Homo sapiens: one gene and its partners. The protein of the gene in region 3 interacts with the protein of the main gene of each other region in a pairwise test. Each region holds a gene or a part of one and is shown on either strand. Other genes may lie near its edges.

Region 1 (7,427 bases), on a different chromosome or scaffold from region 3:
CATGCACCAGTGGTCTCAGCTACTCAGGAGGCTGAAGCTGGGGGATTGCTTGAGCCCAGGAGCTCGAAGCTACAGTGAGCCGTAATCATGCCACTACACTCCAGCCTGGGCAACAAAACGAGATCCTGTGTCAGAATAAAAAAAAGGGCGGGGGGGGACCAGTCTGGGCAAAAACTGGAAGGTGCAGAGCCTTTTCATCAATAGTTCTTCAAAAATGGGCCAGGCACGGTGGCTCACACCTGTAATCCCAGCGCTCTGGGAGGCCGAGGTGGGCGGATTACGAGGTCAGGAGTTCGAGACCACCCTGGCCAACATGGCGAAACCCTATCTCTACTAAAAATACAAAAAATTAGCCAGATCGCTTCTCTGCCTTTTGGCTAAGATCAAGTGTAAAAAATTAGCTGGGCATGGTGGAAGGCACCTGTAATCCCAGCTACTCAGGAGGCTGAGGCAGGAGAATTGCTTGAACCTGGGAGGCGGAGGTTGCAGTGAGCTAAGACTGAGCCACTGCACTCCAGCCTGGCAACAGAGCGAGACTGTCTCAAAAAAAAAAAAAATGGTCTCAGCTCCTATGCCAGTATCCTCTCCTAACTCCCTGCCCCTACCTGCACTAAAAGATAGTTGAGGAGGGGGAGGTTGGTTAACCACAAAGAAGGGCGAAGTACTCCAGACTTCTGCCATGGCCTGGTCCAAGTCAGGCTCTGTCCGTCCTCCTTGGAGGTTGGAGGTGGCCTTGATAGCTTGTGACAGTCAAGAGCCTCTGCTCAGTTGGCCGTGAGTTGACTGACAGCCAAGGCAGATGCGCCTAGGCAAACGCTCCCACCACACCCAGGCCCTGCTGCACTCCAGAGGCCTCCAACGCTGATACAGCCACCAGTGCACTCTTCAGGAAGGGAGGGCCCAACAATCCTGTCACCTGTCTAGTGTTGGCACGTATCAGAAGTAACCGTACTCTCTCCATCAAAGGGTGGAATATGGGAAGAAGCAGAATACAAGGAGGCTATGCCAGTGCCTGGACAGGCAGTGGACGGGTTCTGGCATATGAAGCCTCATAGGCTGCCCACAGTTCTGACTTAATGGTGGCTTTTTTTTTTTTTTAAGATGGAGTCTCGCTCTGTATCCCAGGCTGGACTGCATGACGCAATCTCAGCTCACTGCAAGCTCTGCCTCCCGGGTTCACGCCATTCTTCTGCCTCAACCTCCCTAGTAGCTGGGACTACAGGCGCCTGCCACCACACCCGGCTAATTTTTTTTTTGTATTTTTAGTAGAGACTGGGTTTCACCGTGTTAGCCAGGATGGTCTCGATCTCCTAACCTCGTGATCCACCTGCCTCAGCCTCCCAAAGTGCTGGGATTACAGGCCTGAGCCACTGTGCCTGGCCTGTTTTTGTTTTTTGAGACCAAGTCTCATTAAGTGGCCTCCGCCTCCCAAGTTTAAGCAATTCTCCTGCCTCGGCCTCCTGAGTAGCTGGGATTACAGGTGCTCACGGCCACACCCAGCTAATTTTTGTATTTTTAGTAGAGATGGGGTTTCACCACATTGCCCAGGGTGGTCTTGAACTCCTGGGCTCAAGTGATCCACCCACTTCAGTCTCCTAAAGTGCTGGAATTACAGGCATAAGCCACCGAGTTTTTCGGTTTTTTACTTTTTTTTTCTCTCTTTTTTTTTGAGACAGGGGCTCTCACTCTATCACCCAGGCTCAAGTGCAGTGGTGGGATACTGGCTCACTGCAGCCTCGACTTCCCGGGCTCAAGCGATCCTCCTACCTCAGCCTCCTGACAGGCTGAGACTACAGGCGTGTGCCAACATGCCCAGCTAGGCAGCATCATTTCTGAAGTGTAGGGGACAGGTTCTGCCCCACTGCCTCATGGTTTGCCAGAGGCGTGTGGATCCTTCTGTGGCAGCCATGGGCGGAAGACAGAGGAAGTGACGTGACACCAGATGTCGCTGCTGCCCATAACCAATGCCAGAGCAGATCCAGAACCCAGCACTGTAGTTCAGTTCTGGGTAATCTTGGACCAGGAGCTCAGTACTCAGGGCAGGCAGGACTCACCCTGCCTCCAGCTCGCAGGATTGTCCTGAGGCCCCGAAGGATAAAAGGGTTCAGAGCATGAGAGCCAAGCAAAGGCTCAGCACCCACCAGCCATGGCTTCCTCTACTTACGGCGCTTGCCAGTCCCACCCTGGACATGGGGAGGAGGAAGCCAGCATGTCCCAGCCTTGAGTGGGATTTTTTTTTCTTTTGAGACAAGGTCTCGCTCTGTCACCCAGGCTGGAGTGCAGTGTGGCACGATCTCACTGCAACCCCTGCCTCCCAGGTTTAAGTCATTCTCCCACCTCAGCCTCCTGAGTAGCTGGGACTACAGGCATGCACCATCACACCCAGCTACTTTTTTGTTTTTGTAAGGACGGGGTTTAATCATGTTGCCCAGGCTGGTCTTGAACTCCCAGGCTCAAGTGATCCTCCTGCCTTGGCCTCCCAAAATGCAGGGGATTACAGGCATGAGCCAACATGCCTGGCTGGCCTCCTTGAGTGGGATTTAGAAACTGGTTCTCTCTGGGGCAGACTAAACAGATTGCCCGTATGTGGAAAAGGAAGGGATAACGAGACACAAAAGAATGTCCCCCAGAATATCAGCCAAATGGCTCTTTAGAGCAAGAATCGTTTCTTTAGTTAAAATGCCCAAAGCAATGGGTAGTGGAGGAGTGTGTGAAAGTAGTCACGCCCAGGTACAGGAAATAAGTAAGTGTGCCATTTGTAGAGAATTTAAAATAAAACTGCTTGGGCGTGGCAACTCACATCTGTAACCCCAGCAGTTTGGGAGGCAAGGCAGGACAATCGTTTGAGGCCACAAGTTCGAGAGCAGCCTGGGCAGCAAAGCAGACACTGTCTCTACAAAAAATTAGCCGAGGCCAGGTGCAGTGACTCAAACCTATAACCCAGCACTTTAGGAGGCCAAGACAGACGGATCACCTAAGGTCAGGAGTTCGAGACCAGCCTGCCAACATGGTGAAACCTCATCTCTACTAAAAATACAAAACTTAGCCAGGTGTGGTAGCGGGTGCCTGTAACCCCAGCTACTCGGGAGGATGAGGCTGAAGAATCACTTGAACCCAAGAGGCAGAGATTGCAGTGAGCCGAGATTGCGCCACTGCACTCTAGCCTGGGCAACAAAGCAAGACTCTGTCTCGAGGAAAAAAAAAAAAATTAGCTGGGCATGGTGCTGGTAGTCCTACCTACTAGGGAGGCTGAGGTGGGAAGATCATTTGAGCCCAGGAGATCGAGGCTGCTGTGAGCTATGATCATGCCACTGCACTCCAGCCTGGGCAACAACAGAGACCCCGTCTATAAAAAAAAAAAAAGGAATTTAAGGCCGGGCGCCGTGGCTCATGTCTGTAATCCCAGCACTTTGGGAGGCCAAGGTGGGTGGATCACCAGGTCAGGAGATTGAGAACATCCTGGCTAACACGATGAAACCCCGTCTCTACTAAAAATACAAAAAAATTAGCCGGGCATGGTGGCGGGCACCTGTAGTCCCAGCTACTTGGGAGGCTGAGGCAGGAGAATGGCGTCAACCCGGGAGGCGGAGCTTGCAGTGAGCAGAGATCGTGCCACTGCACTCCAGCCTGGGCGACAGAGCAAGACTTCGTCTCAAAAAAAAAAAAAAAAAAAAAAAAGAATTTTAAAAATATGCAAGATGTGTAAGGATATAGATTTTTTAAAAAAGAATTTAGGTCAGGTGCAGTGGCTCACATCTGCAATCCCAGCACTTTGGGAGGCCGAGGCCTCCCAACATGGAGAAACCCCATCTCTACTAAAAATACAGAATTAGCTGGGCGTGGTAGCACATGCCTATAATCCCCCTACTTGGGAGGCTGAGGCAGAAGAATTGCTTGAACCCAGGAGGTGGAGGTTGCGGTGAGCCGAGATCGCGCCATTGCACTCCAGCCTGGGCAACAAGAGCGAAACTCCGTCTCAAAAAAAAAAAAAAAAAGAATTTAAAAAATAAAATCCATCCTGGCTAACACGGTGAAACCCCATCTCTACTAAAAAATACAAAAAATTAGCCGGGCGTAGCAGCGGGCGCCTGTAGTCCCAGCTACTCTGGAGGCTGAGGCAGGAGAATGGCGTGAACCCAGGAGGCAGAGCTTGCAGTGAGCTGAGATCGCGCCACTGCACTTCAGCCTGGGCGACAGAGCGAGACTCCATCTCAAAAATAAATAAATAAATAAAAATAAAATAAAACTGGCTTGGTTTGTTTATTATCTTCGTGCAATGGCAACTCTAAATCATATCTGTGATAAAAGGCCCCTCCTGGCAGGGGCTGACAGCTCCCATCACCCATCTTGGGATGCCACCAGCCCAAAGGAAACTAGTCCGGAGTCAGCCTCTGGGCTTCTGGTTGGCATCACCCAAAACTCAGCCATTAGAAACTTTAATTGCAGATACCCGGCTGGGCGCGGTGGCTCACGCCTGTAATCCCAGCACTTTGGGAGGCCGAGGCAGGAGGATCAGGAGGTCAAGAGTTCGAGACCAGCCTGACCAACACAGTGAAACCCCGTCTCTGCTAAAAATATAAAAATTAGCTGGCCGTAGTGGTGCGCGCCTGTAATCCCAGCTACTTGGGAGGCTGAGGCAGGATAATCGCTTGAACCTGGGAGGCAGAGGTTGCAGTGAGCCAAGATCATACCACTGCATTCCAGCCTGGGTGACATGGCGAGACTCCGTCTCAAAAAAAAGAAAAAAAAAAGAAAATTGCAGATACCTTTCTCCCCCTGCCTTCCAGTCTCACCAAAAACCCTAATATAAAACACAATAGCAGTATACTGTGTGGTTAAGAGCAAACTCTGGGTTCAAATCCCAACCTCCCCACTTAATAGCTACATGAAAGTTATTTAACCTCTCTGTGCCTCACTTTCCTCATTTATGAAATGGTGATAATAATGTAAGTACTTCATAATGCTCTTACAAAGATTAAGAGTTAAAATGGTGCAGAACATATAACAATGCCTGGCATAAATACAACATACAGGTTCATTATTATTAGTACAGCCTCTCCCTTAGATTACTTAGGCAGAGGGGACACATCCACAATAACTCCCAGTGAGGAGGGGAACCTGACCTCCTACTGCTATATGCCTGGCAGGGCTTCTAGGTGAGTGCCCAGAAACAGAGAAGCCTCCATTCCCTCATATTCAAAAAAAGCCTGCAGACCAAGATGTCCCAGATGCTTTCAAATGCTATTGATGTTAAAGAAAAGGGAGGTGCCCAAATAGCACACTGGATCCAGGAATTACCTCGCACTCATCTAGAGTGCCTTATCCCCCACCTCCCACACCCCCCTCCCCGTTCCATCCACACAAGTCTAAGCACCTGTTCACCCACATCTCAGGGAGGGCTGACCTCAAGCCACCCAGTGGTCCCAGGGCTCTGGCTGCTTCCTGACACCCCTCTGAGGACACATGATGGGCTCTAGGATACCAGGCCTGCAAGCAGCAGCCCTGTCCCAGCCACACTGGGATGAGGTGGAAGGGCAGGGAAGGGCAAAGCCCCTCAGGTCAAACTGTAGCCCCCTTAGCTGCCATTAACCCCTGCCTTTCTATAGCTTACCATTAAGCTGGCAAAAACTTTTTTAACTCTTAAGAAACTTATATCCTCCCTCAACCCAATAGTATAAATACCACTCTCCCCCTTCCAGGGGTGCCCCCCAGTTAAAAATTACTTTAACAATCTCCAAACTCTTCAAGTTGTATACACTAAATATACACCTTTATATATGCCAATCATACCTCAAAAAAGTGGTTTTTAAAAATTACTATAACTTAGTATCACCTCGTACCGTTTAGTTGTCCCTCGATATCTGAGGCGGATTGGTTCCAGGGTTCCCCCTTGGATATCAACATCTCCAGATGTTCAAGTCTCTTATATAAAATTTGTATATAACCTATGCACAGGCCGGGCACGGTGGCTCACGTCTGTAATCTCAGCACTTTGGGAGGCCGAGCTGGATGGACCACTTGAGGTCAGGAGTTCAAGACCAGCCTGGCCAACATGGTGAAACCCCGTCTCTACTAAAAATACAAAAATTAGCCAGGCATGGTGGCGTGCACCTGCAATCCTGGAGGCTGAGGCAGGAGAATCACTTGAACCTGGGAGGAGGTTGCAGTGAGCCGAGATTGCGCCACTGCACCCCAATCTGGGCAACAGAGACTGTCTCAAAAACAAAACAAGGCTGGGCGCCGTGGCTCAGGCCTGTAATCCCAGCACTTTGGGAGACTGAGGTGGGCAGGTCACCTGAGGACAGGAGTTCAAGACCAGCCTGGCCAACATGGTGAAATCCTGTCTCTACTAAAAAACAAAAATTAGCCAGGTATGGTGGCGGGCACCTGTAATCCCAGCTACTCAGGAGGCTGAGGCAGGAGAATTGCTTGAACCTGGGAGGCAGAGGTTGCAGTGAGCTGAGATTGTGCCACTGCACTCCAGCCTGGGTGACAAGAGTGAAACTCCCCTTCAAACAAATAAAAAAATAACCTATGCACATTTTCTGGATACTTTAACTCATCTCTAGATTATTCACAATACCTAATACAATGTGAATGCTATGTAAATAGTTGTTATATTTATTTGTATTATTTTTTATTATTGTATTTTTTATCTACAACTGGATTCATGGATAGGGAACCCATAGAAATGGAAGGCCAACAGCAACTGTATTATGAAAGCAAGGTCTCCACTTTCAAAATAGAAATCACATTTACCCCTCTTCAGAGACATGGTAATTACCCAGTTATCCCTTGAGAATCACTAAGACAGGACATTTAGGTCTGAAGTTTGGCAGCACTGATACAGCCTGCCCCGGACAGGTTCATGTACTGTATTACCTCATGTCGTCCCCAGCTCCAGTCAAGACTTACCTGCAGGACAGCACAACCTCTAGATTGGGAGGGACATTCAGCTCCTCCCCTTAATTCCTTACTGCCCTCCTTAGCTTTCAAAGGGTATCAAAGCTTCGAACACATCTTCCCAAGTGGCAGAAAAATGCCAATTTTCCCGTAATACCACAGTCATTACTGCCCTAATTCCAAACTCTCATTATGGCTGCACTGCCTGATATTGCTGCAATATAGCAAACTCCAGGTAGTTACCCAAACAAGCCATGTGGTTACACAAACCTACCTCCTCACTTATACATGCGACTCCCTCCTCTTGGAATGCCTTTTCCACCCCCACAGGTCTAACCTTGCTCCTCCTACTCACCCACATCTCAGGGAAGGCTGACCTCTAATCTCTCAGGAGCACCATGGTACCATGTGCTCATATGCCTTTATTTTATCTATCATTGCATTTCACCTACCACCACTTCCTGGCAAGTCCTTCCGACCTCCTAGGCTGAGAATTTTCACTTGTATCCTTAACCCCTGGGTCC
Region 2 (7,427 bases), on a different chromosome or scaffold from region 3:
CCTATGGAAGGTGGGACGACAATGAGCACAGACTCACAGACGTGGGCAGTGTGAAGCGGGTCACTTCAGGACCGTCTCTGGGTTCCCTCCCAGTAAGTATATTTAACCTTTATGGAAATGTATAACACGAACATAATTTGTATAAGTTTGTATTAGTAGCATGACTGATTGATTCATTGAATAAGAGATGGTGTCTCCTTGGAGGGGAAAAGAACATTTTAAGTCAATCATGAGACAGACCTGGTTTCAAACACCAGCTTCCCCACCTAGCTAGCTGTAACTTAGCATTGCTGAGTCTGTTCTTCTCTTGTAAGAAAAGAAAACAGATTCAGTGGAATTTTGGCTGTCCCATATTCAGCTTTGTTTTCCATTTTAATTAAGATTTATTTTTTATTCAGAAATAAGATTCATAAACAAAAATATGTGGCAATTGAGATTTAGGTAGTAAAAAGCCTTAAGTATCTGCCACAGTTTTTGGAAAGTTCCTACTTAAAGATATACAAAAACAGGATAGGTCAGTCTGGGGTCATTTAGAGGGAATTTGAGCCAGAAGTGAATAACTTCCCAAAGTGCCTTTTAAATAGAGCTGCCAAAATATCTGTATGTGTATATCAATCTGCTTGCTATTTCAACTAAATGGCTGCCAGAATATGAATACACTTATTAAAAAAAGTGTATATCAATCTGCTTGCTATTTCAACTAAATGGCTGCCAGAATATGAATACACTTATTAAAAAATTTGATGGGCTTCATCTTATTTACTGCTGGAAAATAGTGCAAAACTTATGCAAAAATAGCAATTTAGTGCATAAGGAACAGGGAAAATGATTGACAGAGGAAGCCTTGCTTACTTAATGTTTATTAGAGGAACAAGTTCAGGAGCTCAACACTGAATGTAACCCATGTAATTGTATTTGAGATTAAAAGTTTAATTGGAGTGAAATTTCAAGAATTTGGCCTACTGAAAAAAGACCATAGCAGAACTCCTCATATTCCTTTGGTAGTTTTTAAACAGTTCACAAGAATCCACCACTACCCTGTGGCTGACCTCAGACATTATTGCATGTCTGTTATAGAACCTCCATCATTTGTAAACTTTATACTTCAGCTCTACTTGAATTAAAGAACCACACTGCAGCATGTCTTATGCAGTGTCTTTTTTTAAAAAAAAATTTTTCTCAGCCTGCCGCAATGGAGTCTATGGAATCCTTAAGACTCAAAGATAAAAATGAGCCTGTTCAAAACCTACCCATCCAGAAGAGTATTGATGATGTGGATTCAAAACTGAAAGGAATAGGAAAGCCAAGAAAGTTCTCCAAATTTAGTCTCTACAAGCAGCTCCACAGGCACCACCTGCACGACGCAGATAGCATCAGCAGCATTGACAGCACCTCCAGTAAGTCATGGCCTTGACTAGAATTTATCTTAACTACCCACTGTTCTTCCATAGCCAGACACTACATACCTGTTTTTAAAATCTGTCTTTCTGTAATGGAGTAGAATGAGCAATGTTGAGAGGTCGCTATATCATTCTATTCAACCTCATGCCATTTGGTGGCTTTGTTTGCCTCATTTTAGAACAGATTTATTGTTTTATCCACACAAAAGTCATAACGACCACGATTACCACTTCTAATGGTAGCAGAATGACAAAGGGTTTCTAAAATATGCCAAGCCATAAAAGAAAAAGGTATTAGATGTACTTTATAAACTTTTCTTAGAAGAAATTACATTTATCTTCCTATCCAGAAATATATCAAGCTTATTTCGTCAAACATCAGACTTTCTACATCTTGTAAATTTACTATTCCTTTGAAATCCATCTTAAAGCCCTACAATTTTCTGTTGCACAGAATCTTAAGACTGATGTTATAGCCCTGCCTGGTTTTAAAAATGATCAGCTTTGCTTTCCAGTTTAGAAAATTTGATATTTGTATTTTTTTGTAAAAAAATTCTTAATTTCTCTAGGTTATTTTAATCACTATAGAAGTCATCACAATTTAATCCATGGTTTAAAACCCCACTTCAAACTCTTTCACCCGTCCAGTGAGTCTGAGCAAGGACTCACTAGACCTCATGCTGGTAAGTAATTTGTGAAGTGGCAGAACTCCCTTAGGCTTGAGCTTTGGTTGTGTTGTCTGCTGCATGGGCATAGTGAATGTGTTTCCAGATTGGCTTTCTGTTTGCAATTTTTATGCTACGTATATTATTGAGAGCCTGCTCTGTGCAAAGCATTCTGTAGTATCCAAGATCCCTACTCCCTAAGAACTTATAGCAGCAAAGACAAAACAGACCTAATAAGAGAAAATGCATGGCACATGCAATTCAATAGTGTCATGGAAGTTCTATGGAAGGAGGGAGGAATTCCTCTCTGATGATGCAGAAAGACTTTTTGAGGAGGGGACATTTGGGTTAGGCCTGGAAGTAATTTAATTGGGGTAGGTGATAGGAAGTCATTGCAAGTGAGGGAGGTGAGTTGAGCAAAGGTGCTGGAATGGGAAAGCACCAACTGCTTTCAAATTGTGTAAAATGCATTATTTAGCTAAAATGCAGTTTTTGATATAAGACTAAGAAGATATATGACATTCACATTTGGGAGCTGGAATTTTATTTGGTTAAAAATCTTTTTTTTTTTTTTTTTTTGAGATAGAGTCTTGCTCTGTCACCCAGGCTGCAGTGCAGTAGGGCCGTCTTGGCTCACTGCACCCTCCGCCTCCCAGGTTTTAGCGATTCTCCTGCCTCAGCTCAGCCTCCTGAGTAGCTGGGATTATAGGCGTGCATGACCGTGCCTGGCTAATTTTTGTACTTTTAGTAGAAATGGGGTTTTGCCATGTTGGCCAGGCTTGTGTTGAACCCCTGACCTCAAGTGATCCGTCTGCCTTGGCCTCCGAAAGTGCTGGGATTACAGGTGTGAGCCACCGCTCCTGGCCAGTTAAAAATCTTGAAGGCCTTTGGGTGGATGTGTCATGCTGTGTGAATTTTCAGAAATTACAATCTGATAGCCTTTGGTAAGAAGATACTCCAGATACTCGAGGAATTAATGAATGACTAATAAGTTTAACTTGTGGTGGGAATAAAGAAGGATTTGGCCGCTGGTCAGATATGGGGATAAGTAATCATCATAATAAATGACACTAGTAAGATCATAAGCTAACATTTATTTTGCACAGACTCTATCCATCACTGCCCTGAGTAGTTGCAGTGCTTGGTAGTGATATTGTCATCTCCTTTTTACAGATGAAGAAACTCAGGGTTAGAGATGATACATGACCTGCCCAATGGAGTTCCAATTTATCATCCTCCCAGTGCCCATAATTAAGACCTGTGATTTAGCAGAAATAAAGATTACTATGTTATGCTTTTTTGGCTAGAACCTAAGGCCAGGGCTCTCATGTCCTGTTTAGCAGATGAGAGTTACAGTCTAGCTCACATGCCTGAATGTGAGTCACCTGTGGCTTGCAGGTGCTAATGAACCTGAAAAATTATGCTAGACTTTGAGTAATGATTCCCAGCATTCTTTCATCTAGGGCAGGGGTGTCCAATCTTTTGGCTTCCGTGGACCACATTGGAAGAAGAATTGTCTTGGGCCACACATAAAATATACTAACACTAATGATAGCTGATGAGCTAAAAAAAGTTGCAAAAAAAAATTACAATGTTTAAGAAAGTTTGTGAATTCGTGTTGGGCCACATTCAAAGCCATCCCGGGCCGCATGTGGCCCACAGGCTGTGGGTTGGACAAGCTTGGTCCAGCTACGCTGCATTTTAAAAAATGCAATAATCAACTACACACAATGAACTAAAACTTCAGTGTAACTGTTAAATAAATTTGTGTCTATAAATCATAACAGCATCGATATATATTTAAGAATGGAGAAGAGGCCAGGTGCAGTGACTCACACCTGTAATCCCAGCAATTTGGGAGGCTGAAGCAGGAGGATTGCTTGAGCCCAGGAATTCAAGACCATCTTCGGCAACGCAGTGAAACCCCCTCTCTACAAAAATTAGCTGAGTGTGGTGGCATGCATCTGTTGTCCCAGCTTTTCTGGCAGCTGAGGTGGGAGAATTGCTGGAGCCTGGAAGGCAGAGGTTGCAGTGAGCTGAGATCATGCCACTGCAGTCCAGCCTGGGTGACAGAGGGAGACCCTCTCTCACACACACAAAAACAATTTTTAAATTTTTGAAAAATAAAAATGGAGAAGAACAAATATGGGGAGACATATATTTATTTAGCATACACCTAGTACTGGGTGTATGTGTGGATTCAGGGACAACTCCCAGTAATTCCTGTGCATGACAAAGCTTCAAAGTCCTGGGAAGTAGGAGGCCTCTGGGAAATCTAGGAAGCCAGGTCAAGAGTGCATGCAGTGGCCGATATTAGAGGTAAAGGGTTGGAAACAGCTCCAGGTAGTGCCTTATCGTTTCAATGTGTAACTTTGCTGCTTTATTACTGAAGTTAAAAATGAAGTGGAGGAAAGGAGGTTGCCAACCCATGAAGATTATGGATCTGAATTATGACTGATAGTGTTGCTGGCAATAGGATTGACAGCAAGTGGAAAAGATGTGAGTGAGGTGCTGAGTCCAGTAAGTAACTCACGCCTACCCCAGGTTGACAGAGGTGATATCCACAGTGGTGATCTGAGACACTGATCATACATGTGTATGGTGTTGCTGATGAAAAGTACCCTTGACATCTGTTTACAACCCCTCACTGATAAACTGAATATATGTCTAGTGTAGCATTGTTGAGAGACAGAGAGAGAGATAGAGAGAGAGAACAACCTAAACGTCAAAGAGTAGGGAAATGGTGAAGAACATAATGAATGGTAACAAATGGTTCATCTCTTTTATGGAATTGGGCAATGATTACAACTGTAGTTGGGGATACAAAAATAAACATAGAAGATTTATTTATTTAATTAAATAAGTGTTTATTGAGTTTCTGTTATATGCCAATCACTATTCTGGGTGCTAGAGATGTGGTGAATAAAACAGATGAAGTGCAATTAACTAGTTGGAGGGTAAGGATGGGAACTGTGTATACAAATAGAGAGTCAAACACATTTCAGGTGGTGATAATTATCACGGAGAATAGTTGAGCATGATCCGGGAGGAAGAGCATAGGAGAAGAGTTACTATTTTGTAAAGGCTCATCGGAGAATACATCTCTCATGAGGTTAGTTTTCAGCTGACATCGAAAGAAAGAGAAGAATGAGGATAAGAAACTGAGAGAGGGTGTTTCCGACAGAAGGAATAGCAAGTATGAAAGGCCATGAGGTAGAGGGGTTGGGTGTGTTCCAGGAATACGGCTGTAGTGAAGTGGGCTAGGAGAGGATGATAAGAACAAAATCAGAGAGGTGGGCTGGGGTGGGTTATGTGAGGTCTTGCAGACCACTGTAAGATTTTGACCCTGAGTGAGATAGGAAGTCATCGGATGGTCTTGAGCGAAGGGTAGGCGAGGGCTGACTTACATTTTCCAAGGATCATTCTTCAGAGCAGACCAGGGTGGCAAATGGTGACTCTGCAGGTTGTGAATATATTTTGAGGGTCGAGCTGACAGCATTTGCCGATGAACTAGATACAAGATGTGAGAGATGGAGAGGACTCCAAATCTTTGGCCCCACTGGAAAGATGGAATTTCCATGAACTGAAATGAGGTGGCTATGGGAAGAGCAAGGAAAATTTGAGGACAATTGCCACTGTATCAAAATATGTTCGTGAAGGCAGCTGACAAAGGACATTCAATGATGCTATCTTTGTTAGGAAGATGGAGCGTGAGGTGATTTATTTTTTTCCCACATTGTTGGTACTGTTTTCATTTTACTTTTATAGTCAAATATAAATACAAATTTAATTTTTTAAAATGAAAACAGTTTACCTAAAAAGAAAAGCCAAAGGATCATGGGGTCCTTCTAGAGCAGTGCTTTCCAAAGTCGATTCCTTGGATCCTGGAGTTTTTAAAAGGCTTTGAGGAGAACATTGAAGTAGGTGAACCCCAGGACCCTCCCACAGCTATTGGTACCTCTTCAACCAGAACAATCCCACTTGTATCTGTTTTAATTATTGGAGTTCCTTCTGAACTTGTTTTCAAAAAAGAAAAGTTCTACTAAAAAAATGAAGGAAGTTTAAAGAGCAAGGCTCTAGATTTAAATCATGTAATACCTTAAAAACTCAGGTTGCCTTATAAAACTTGAAACCCAAATTAAGCATGGAGTGACTCTTCGTTAGAAATTTAAAACTGAATATGAACTTGAGTTAATGACTTCCTTTTCCTGAGAATGCAAAGAGAGTTAGCCTCTCTGCAATATCAATTTCACTTGACCGCATATGACCATGTTGAATTGGGCTCCTTGTTGAATTAAACCTCCTGGTGTCATACAGAAATCAGTGTGGAGTGAACATCACTATGGGTTTTTATATAGAAAAACTGCACTAAAAACGTGGTTAGGAATCATATCTGAAATATATGTTTTTCAAAATCACTCAGTCATTTTCAAGATTTTTTTTCATTCAGAATTATGTTCTAAGAGGGAGAATTTTGCTTGATACTATTTTTAAAGTGTTGAATTTTATTCCCTTTCTTTCTTTCTTTCTTTCTTTTTCTTTCTTTCTTTCTTTCTTTCTTTCTTTCTTTCTTTCTTTCTTTCTTTCTTTCTTTTTCTTTCTGTATTATACTTTAAGTTCTGGGATACACGTGCAGAACATGCAGGTTTGTTACATAGGTATACAAGTGCCACAGTGGTTTGCTGCACCCATCAACCTGTCATCTACATTAAGTGTTTCTCCTAATGCTATTCAGCAACTATGTGCTGATCTTTTCCTTTTAAGCAATATTAAATAGGTAAGTGAGGGAAAAATTATTTTTGCAATTTAGTTGAGACAGGCTTTTCAAATTTGAATGTCTCGTCACAAGGGATAATATTAAGCTGTTTCTAAACTGTTCTTAGGAATGCAATGGATAGGATGTGTAAGATTCATCTAGTGCTGTTAAATAGCTTGTTATCTAATAGGTGAGCATGAGTTTTAAATATTTTACAAACCTAATATTTTAGTAATTCATTGAGGGAAGATACTCCTACTGCAAGAGTCATCATTGATCCACAGACGAAATACAGGTCTACAAACCCTTAACCACGATTCTAAATTCCAAAAAATTTTGAAAACCAAAATATTTTTTAAAATATAACTTGTTCAGTGCCTGTATTGGAACTGGCCTTGAACATATGTAGAAATTCGGTAGGTAGAGACTAAAAAGGTAGAAAAACAGGCATTTTAGGTAGATACTACATCTTAAGACCCAGATATAGGAAATGCAAAAGTATTTATTTCGGCATCTCAGACTGAGTGTAGAATGTGGTAAATACATATAGGTCTATAATCTCTCATACAAAATCCTTGGAATCAGATTTCAGAAATCAGAAAGTTC
Region 3 (7,427 bases):
CACTGCAACCTCTGCCTCCAGGGTTCAAGCGATTTTTGTGCCTCAGCCTCCTGAGTAGCTGGGATTATAGGCGTCCGCCACCACATCCGGCTAATTTTTGTATTTTTAGTCGAGACAGGAGTTCACCATGTTGGCTAGGCTGATCTCGAACTCCTGACCTCCAAGTGATCCACCCACCTCGGCCTCCCAAAGTGCTGGGATTACAGGCGTGAGCCACCATGCCTAGCCTCACTAAATCTTAGTTCTACAACTGTTTGGTTTTGCTGTAATTTATCTGTCAGGGTTATTATGAGAATTGGAAGAAATAGGGAGTGGTTGGCACAAAATGGTGTCCAGTAAATGCCACCATTTAAGTCAGCAGATCCTTGGAAGCTATAGAGATGTTGATAGGTGGAAAGAGATCAGAGGAAGATGGGGGCCTACACCCAGGAAATGTTACAACAGTCGAGAAAATAGCATAACATTTTAGGAATAGTATCTAATGAACTCTTAAATTGACGATTGTGGCCTAGAACAGTTTTGGTGGGTCATTTGTGGCCTAATTTGGTTAGGGGATTAAGATAAGAGTGCTTTCCTTATAGGGTGGTACCTGAGCACTGTTGAGAAGGCTAGGTAATCCTGCCATTAATAGATGAGAGGAAAGCTTAATTTGAATGGAATATACTTTTATACTCCTTTCAAGTCTAAATTTTCCCCATATTCTTTTTTGAGATTGATTGACAAACATTCCTGTGGCATCCTTTGTATCTGGCCATCTTTTTGCAATCTCCATTCTTCTGTAATAGGTCACAGGTCAATAACCGTTTGCTATAAGGGGCTAGAAAGTCAATGTTAGGTTTTGCGGAGCACATTAGGGTCTGCTCACCCAGGTGCACCTTGTTTTAGTGTGCTTCACTTTATTGTGATTCACAGTTGTTGTATTTTGTCTTTTTTTAAATTTTCATCTTTTATTTTTGAGACAGCATCTTGCTCTGTCACCCAGGCTGGAGTGCAGTGGTGTACTTTTCGACCTCCCAGGCTCAAGCAATCCTCCCACCTCAGCCTCCTGAGTAGATGCAATGACAGGCCAATTTGTTATTTTGTAGAGATGGGGACTCGCTATCTCAGGCTGGTCTTGAATTCCTGGGTTCAAATGATCCTCCCACCTCGGCCTCCCAAAGTGCCGGGATTACAGGCGTGAGCCACCGTGTCTGGCCAGTTTTGTTTTGTTTAAAAAAAAAGAAAATGGAAGGTTTGTAGCAACTCTGCATTCAGCAAGTCTATTGACACCATTTTTCCAACAACATTTGCTCACTTGTCTCTCTGTCACCTTTCAAACTTTTTCATTATTCTGTTGTGGCGATCTGTAATCAGTGATCTTTGTTACTGGTGTAATTGTTTTGGGGCACCATAAAGCAGGGCCATATTAGGTGGCAAACTTAATTGGTCAGTGTTGTGTGTGTTCGGCTGCTCCAACTGGTGGTTACCCCATCTCTCTCCCTCTCCTTGGGACTCCCTATTCCCTGAAACACAATATTGAAATTAAGCCAATTAACCCTACAACAGCATCTAACCTTTCAAATGAAAGTAAGAGTTTCATATCTCTCACTTTAAATCAAAAGCTAGACATGATTAAGCTTAGTCAGGAAGGCATGTCAAAAGCTAAGGGAGGCCAAAAGCCAGGCCTTATGCACCAAATGATTTGTCAAGTTGCGTAAAGGAAAATTTCTTGAATATTCCAGTGAATATATGAATGATAAGAAAGCAAAACATTATAGGGTGTTACCTGAGCAAAGATGAGAAGGCTGGGTACCACTTGTCATTTATAGAAGAGAGGAAAGTGTAATTTGAATGGAATATACTTATTGCTATGATATGGAGAGAGTGTGAGTGGTTTGGATAGATCAAACTAGCTACCACATTTCCTTAAGCCAAAGCGCAATCTGGAGCAAGGCCTTAAGTCTCTTCAATTCTATGAAGGCTGAGAGAAGTGAGGAAGCTGCAGAAGAAAAGCTAGCAGAGATTGGTTTATGAGATTCAAGGAAATAAGTCAGCTCTACGACATAATTCAAAGTGAAGCAGAAAGTGCTTATGGAGAAGTTGCAGTGAGTTACCCAGAAGATTTAGCTAACTGATGAAGGCAGCTACACTAAGCAGATTTTCAATGTACTAGAAACAGCCTTCTCTTAGAAGATGATGCCATCCTGGACTAACATAGCTAGAGAGGATAAATCAATGCTTTGCTTCAAAAGCTGATTCTCTTGTTATAGGCTAATGTAGCTGGTGACTTTTAAGTTAAAGCTAATGGTCATTAACCGTCCTAAAAATCCTAGCGTTCTGAAGAATTATGCTAAATTGGCCGGGGTGGTGACTCATGGCTGTAATCCCAGCCCTTGGGCAGGCCAAGGTAGGTAGATCATTTGAGGCCAGGAGTTCAAGACCAGCCTGGCCAACATGGTGAAACCCCATCTCTACTAAAAAATACAAAAATGAGGTCGGGTGCAGTGGCTCACGCCTATAATCCCAGCACTTTAGGATACTGAGGCAGGTGGATCAGCTGAGGTCAGGAGTTCGAGACCAGCCTGGCCAACATGGTGAAACCCCATCTCTATAAAAATACAAAAATTAGCTGGGTATGGTGGCGCGTGCCTGTAATTCCACCTGCTCGGGAGGCTGAGGTAGAGGTTGCAGTGAGCTGAGGTTGTGCCACTGCATTCCAGCCTGGGCAACAGAGCGAGACTATCTCAAAAAAAAAAAAAAAAAAAAAAAAAAAAAAAAAACCAAAACAAACAAACAAACAAAAAACCAAAGAAAACCAAGAATTACAGTAAGTCAACTCTGCCTGTGCCCTCAAACAGCATCACAGGCTACCGAATCTTTGATGAAAGGAAGAGGCAATTGATGTGGCAAACTTCATTGTTGTCTTATTTTCAGAAATTGCCACAGCCATCCCAACGTTTAGCAACCATCACCCTGATCTATGAGTAGCCATCAACATCTAGGTAAGATCCTCCACCAACAAAAAGATTGACTCACTGAGGGCTCAGATGATTAACATGTTTTAGCAACAAAGTTGTTCTGTTGTTTTTTATTTTTGGAGACAGAGTCTACCTCTCGCCCAGGCTGGAGTGCAGTGGGGTGTTCTCAGCTCACTACAACCTCCACCTCCCGGGTTCAAGCGATTCTCTTGCCTCAGCCTCCTGAGTAGCTGAGATTACAGGCATGCACCACCACGCCTGGTTAATTTTGGTATTTTTAGTAGAGATGGGGTTTCACCATATTGGCCAGGCTTGGTCTCGAACTCCTGGTCTCAAGAGATCCTCCCGCCTCGGCATCCCAAAGTGCTGGGATTACAGGTGTGAGTCACTGTGCCCATCTGCAACAAAGCATTTTTGAATTAAGGCATGTACATTTTTTAAAAGACATAATGCTATTGAATACTTAGAACAGTCAAAACATAACTTTTATATGTAGTGGGAAACACAAAAAATTGTGTGACTTGCTTTATTGTGATATTCACTTTAATGCAGTGGTGTAGAACCAAGCCTACCATATTTTCAAGGTATGCCTCTATTTGATGGAAATACATCCTTATTTTAGAGAGATTCGCAAAACTTCATGTGAATTCCTGGTTTCACCCTCAAACCAAGTTTGAGCTATGTGTTTCAAAGAGTATACTTTTGGTAAAGAAGCACATTGGCCTGTGTTGGCTCTGAGTGCTTGAATTGTTTCCAAAATTTGCTGTCTAGAACTAGCATCTGCTGTCATCAAAGGTGGACTATCCTACAGGGCTCCAAAAGTGTTCTATAATAGAATTTCTAAGCAAAAGTGGCATTGTGGAAGTAATGTCACATCAATAATCTGTGGTGTCCATTTCAAACATTAGGCCAAAAAAAAAGTCATTTAATACCTTGTAGTGTTGATAATGTCACCATATCATGAAGTCGGCATGGTCATTGCCTTGTGTGTGCTGTAAAGATTCAGAGGATGAAATATTCTAATTAACTTTGTTGCATACTTTGATTCAAAATGAAATGAAAATGCTCAGTATTCATTTGCTACAACTGGGTAAATAAAAATTGTATTCCTGGTAATATCTCAGCACTGGATTGATTTGCCTCTTTTACCCAAAAGGGCAGTTGGAGCCTAAGTTGAATGACTGACTGATGGGAGGCAGCCATTCTGAGATTTCTAAAGGAAGCTCAGCTAGATCCATCTTCTTCCTCTTGGCTTGGTATAGGTTTAATTTTGATTTAGAAGTAACCTGATTTTACCTTTCCAAAGTGTTTCCTTAATTTAATCTCACAGATTTAAATTTTGAGAAGAGTAGTTCAGTCTCTCGATATGGAGCCTCTCAAGTTGAAGATATGGGGAATATAATTTTAGCAATGATTTCAGAGCCTTATAGTAAGTATTGCTTTTATAGTAGTGCAGTCCCAGAATTCATACTATTTTTCTCTTACCTATACTCAAATTTCCTCCTACAACTTTGTCTCCCTAATCACTAAAATGATGACTTTTATGTTCTCATTTTTAGATCACAGGTTTTCAGATCCAGAGAGAGTGAATTACAAGTTTGAAAGTGGAACTTGGTAAGTGCTTGAGTACTATTTATTTGAGCTTTTTAACTTGTTTTTTTTTTTTGTCTGTTTGTTTGTTTTTGAGACAGAGTCTTGCTCTGTCGCCCAGGCTGGAGTGCAGTGGCACGATCTCAGCTCACTGCAAGCTCCGCCTCCCGGGTTCATGCCATTCTCCTGCCTCAGCCTCCCGAGTAGCTGGGACTACAGGCTCCCGCTACCATACCTGGCTAATTTTTTTGTAGTTTTAGTAGAGATGGGGTTTCACCATATTAGCCAGGATGGTCTCAATCTCCTGACCTCGTGATCTGCCCGCCTCGCCTCCCAAAGTGCTGGGATTACAGGCGTGAGCCACCTCGCCCGGCCTTTAACTTGTTTTTGTTCATATTGTGCCTCTTAATTCTTGTTATATTTGAGAAACTTTACTAATCCTTTTAGCTATCCTTTCTTGCTGTTCGGTCATCTGTAAAAGAAGGTTGTATTACTTAGAGCTTGATATTGGGAATAAAATGTAATGACTTACTGGCATCTTTAGTCACCCTGACCTTAAGTATATTATATGCTCATATCTGTGATTGTTATTTTGGTCTCCCCAAACTATCCGATCTTTCATTTAGAAAATTTCCAAAGGAGAAATTGTAGGCTTTAATAGAGTTCACAATTTTTACTGAGATAAAATTTTACGTACATTCTATAAGTACATTTATTTATTTATTTATTTTAGTTTTGAGACACTTGCTCTGTTGCCCAGCTGGAATATCGCGGTGTGATCTCTGCTCACTGCAACCTCCGCCTCCCGGGTTCAAGCGATTCTTGTGCCTCAGCCTTCCCAGTAGCTGGGATTACAGATGTGTACCATCATGCCTGGCTAAGTTTTGTATTTTTAGTAGAGATGGGGTTTTGCCGTGTTGACCAGGCTGGTCTCAAACTCCTGGCCTCATGTGATCTACCCACCTTGACATCCCAAAGTGCTGGGATTACAGGTGTGAGCCATTGTGCCTGGCTATATAGGTTTCTACTTTAAAGCCAAGGAAATAGCTGGGGAGAAGTATGAAGTGGTGTCTGTTAGTGATCGCAGGTAGACCTGTTTGTAAATCACTCTAATGAATTGAGTGTGTGCTTGGTCTCTGAAGTGAATAGAAACTTCTGACAGCTTTGCCCATAGAGAGAGACTTTGAGGCCGATTAGTTGTGGAGAAAGTGACTTATTAAGAAAATGTCCTAGGAGAACTGAAAATGTGAACGTGGGAGGGATAAGACATCAAAAGGTGTCAAAATATATAATAAGTGATTTGCAAATGAGTCATTAAGGTGTAGGGACTCACAGGCATTTCTATGGACATTCTCTGGGATGGCTCCCTGGTTTGATCTGGGGGATATTTTAATGGCAGACTTCCTACCATGCACACACATTCCTCATGTGGGTTAATTGTCAGCTTTATTCTGATCCTAAATTCGGCTGCTAAACTGGATTTAAACCCCACATGTATACTGTCTAGATTTGAGAATGAATTCAAACCTATCTTTTGGGGTTCTAGGAACTTTCAGGACATGAGGGTGCCAAGCAAACATTTCCTCAGCTTTTTTTTTTTTTTTTTTTTTGAGAGGGAGTCTTGCTCTATTGCCCAGGCTGGAGTGCAGTGGCACAATCTCAGCTCACTGCAGCCTCCACCTCCCAGGTTCAAGTGATTTTCCTGCCTTGGCCTCCCAAGTAACTGGGATTATAAGCGTACACCACCATGCCCGGCTAATTTCTGTAATTTTAGTAGAGACGGGGTTTTACCATGTTGGCCAGGCTGGTCGCAAACTCCTGACCTCGGGTGATCCACCTACCTCAGCCTCCCAAAGTGCTGGGATTACAGACATAAGCCACCACGCCTGGCCTTCCTCAGCTTTGATAGATAGATGGTTTGCTGAGTGAGCTAGCTGTGTTGGGCCTGCACAGGCAGCCATGTTTCTATAATGAACCACCTAAACAGTACTTTGAGTTGTACCCACATAATTTTTGAGGTTATAAGGAAAATCAAGTAGTATTGCTAGTCTGTCTGAACACCAAATAATACATCCTGTGTAACTAGGCAGTTGTCTTGCAGGGGGTAATAGGTGTCTGACTTGCTAGCATTTATCATGCAACCTGAAGTTTTGCTTCATCCACAGCAGCAAGATGGAACTTATTGATGATAACACCGTAGTCAGGGCACGAGGTTTACCATGGCAGTCTTCAGATCAAGATATTGCAAGATTCTTCAAAGGACTCAATATTGCCAAGTTGGTTTTCTTAAATATCTATTTTACTTAACAATCCCAAAGGGATAATGGATTTTCTATCTTTTTTTTCCTCACTGTATTTTTTTTTCTACCTGCTGTCTGTTTTATTATTCTCAAAGGGGAGGTGCAGCACTTTGTCTGAATGCTCAGGGTCGAAGGAACGGAGAAGCTCTGGTTAGGTTTGTAAGTGAGGAGCACCGAGACCTAGCACTACAGAGGCACAAACATCACATGGGGACCCGGTATATTGAGGTATGTCCTCAAAACCTGAACCCCTGGACATCGTGAATGAGAATTAACATAGGACGGAAGGCTCAGAAACACTAACTTCTCTGTCTTTTCTCAGGTTTACAAAGCAACAGGTGAAGATTTCCTTAAAATTGCTGGTGGTAAGTGCCTTTTACATAATGTGGCTTTAGTTAATAAGAATCTAAAAATTTTGCATACTTAAATTTAGCAAGAGTAGGTGAATAGGGTCATGAATGGTTTTTATTTTCTAATGGAACATGGGAATAGATTTTCTTCCCCAGAGGTAGAAGCTTCCGATAATAACAGTGAGCTTAATGTATAACACTTGTCCTAAGGCTTGAGCCAACTTACTATA

What was found.
Region 1: the proteins of ESRP1 (region 3) and RBPMS2 interact in binary tests that used the Homo sapiens proteins (3 or more experiments, as listed by UniProt).
Region 2: the proteins of ESRP1 (region 3) and PLD1 interact in binary tests that used the Homo sapiens proteins (3 or more experiments, as listed by UniProt).

What each region holds. Positions count from the first base shown.
Region 1 is NC_000015.10:64,765,447-64,772,873, forward strand, and holds part of RBPMS2 (RNA-binding protein with multiple splicing 2), read right to left. Parts: intron 1-7,427.
Region 2 is NC_000003.12:171,681,341-171,688,767, reverse strand, and holds part of PLD1 (phospholipase D1), read left to right. Parts: coding exon 1-92; intron 93-1,183; coding exon 1,184-1,397; intron 1,398-1,969; coding exon 1,970-2,083; intron 2,084-7,427. UniProt on the Homo sapiens protein: Function as phospholipase selective for phosphatidylcholine. Implicated as a critical step in numerous cellular pathways, including signal transduction, membrane trafficking, and the regulation of mitosis.
Region 3 is NC_000008.11:94,657,985-94,665,411, forward strand, and holds part of ESRP1 (epithelial splicing regulatory protein 1), read left to right. Parts: intron 1-4,287; coding exon 4,288-4,386; intron 4,387-4,516; coding exon 4,517-4,571; intron 4,572-6,712; coding exon 6,713-6,823; intron 6,824-6,942; coding exon 6,943-7,075; intron 7,076-7,169; coding exon 7,170-7,212; intron 7,213-7,427. UniProt on the Homo sapiens protein: mRNA splicing factor that regulates the formation of epithelial cell-specific isoforms. Specifically regulates the expression of FGFR2-IIIb, an epithelial cell-specific isoform of FGFR2.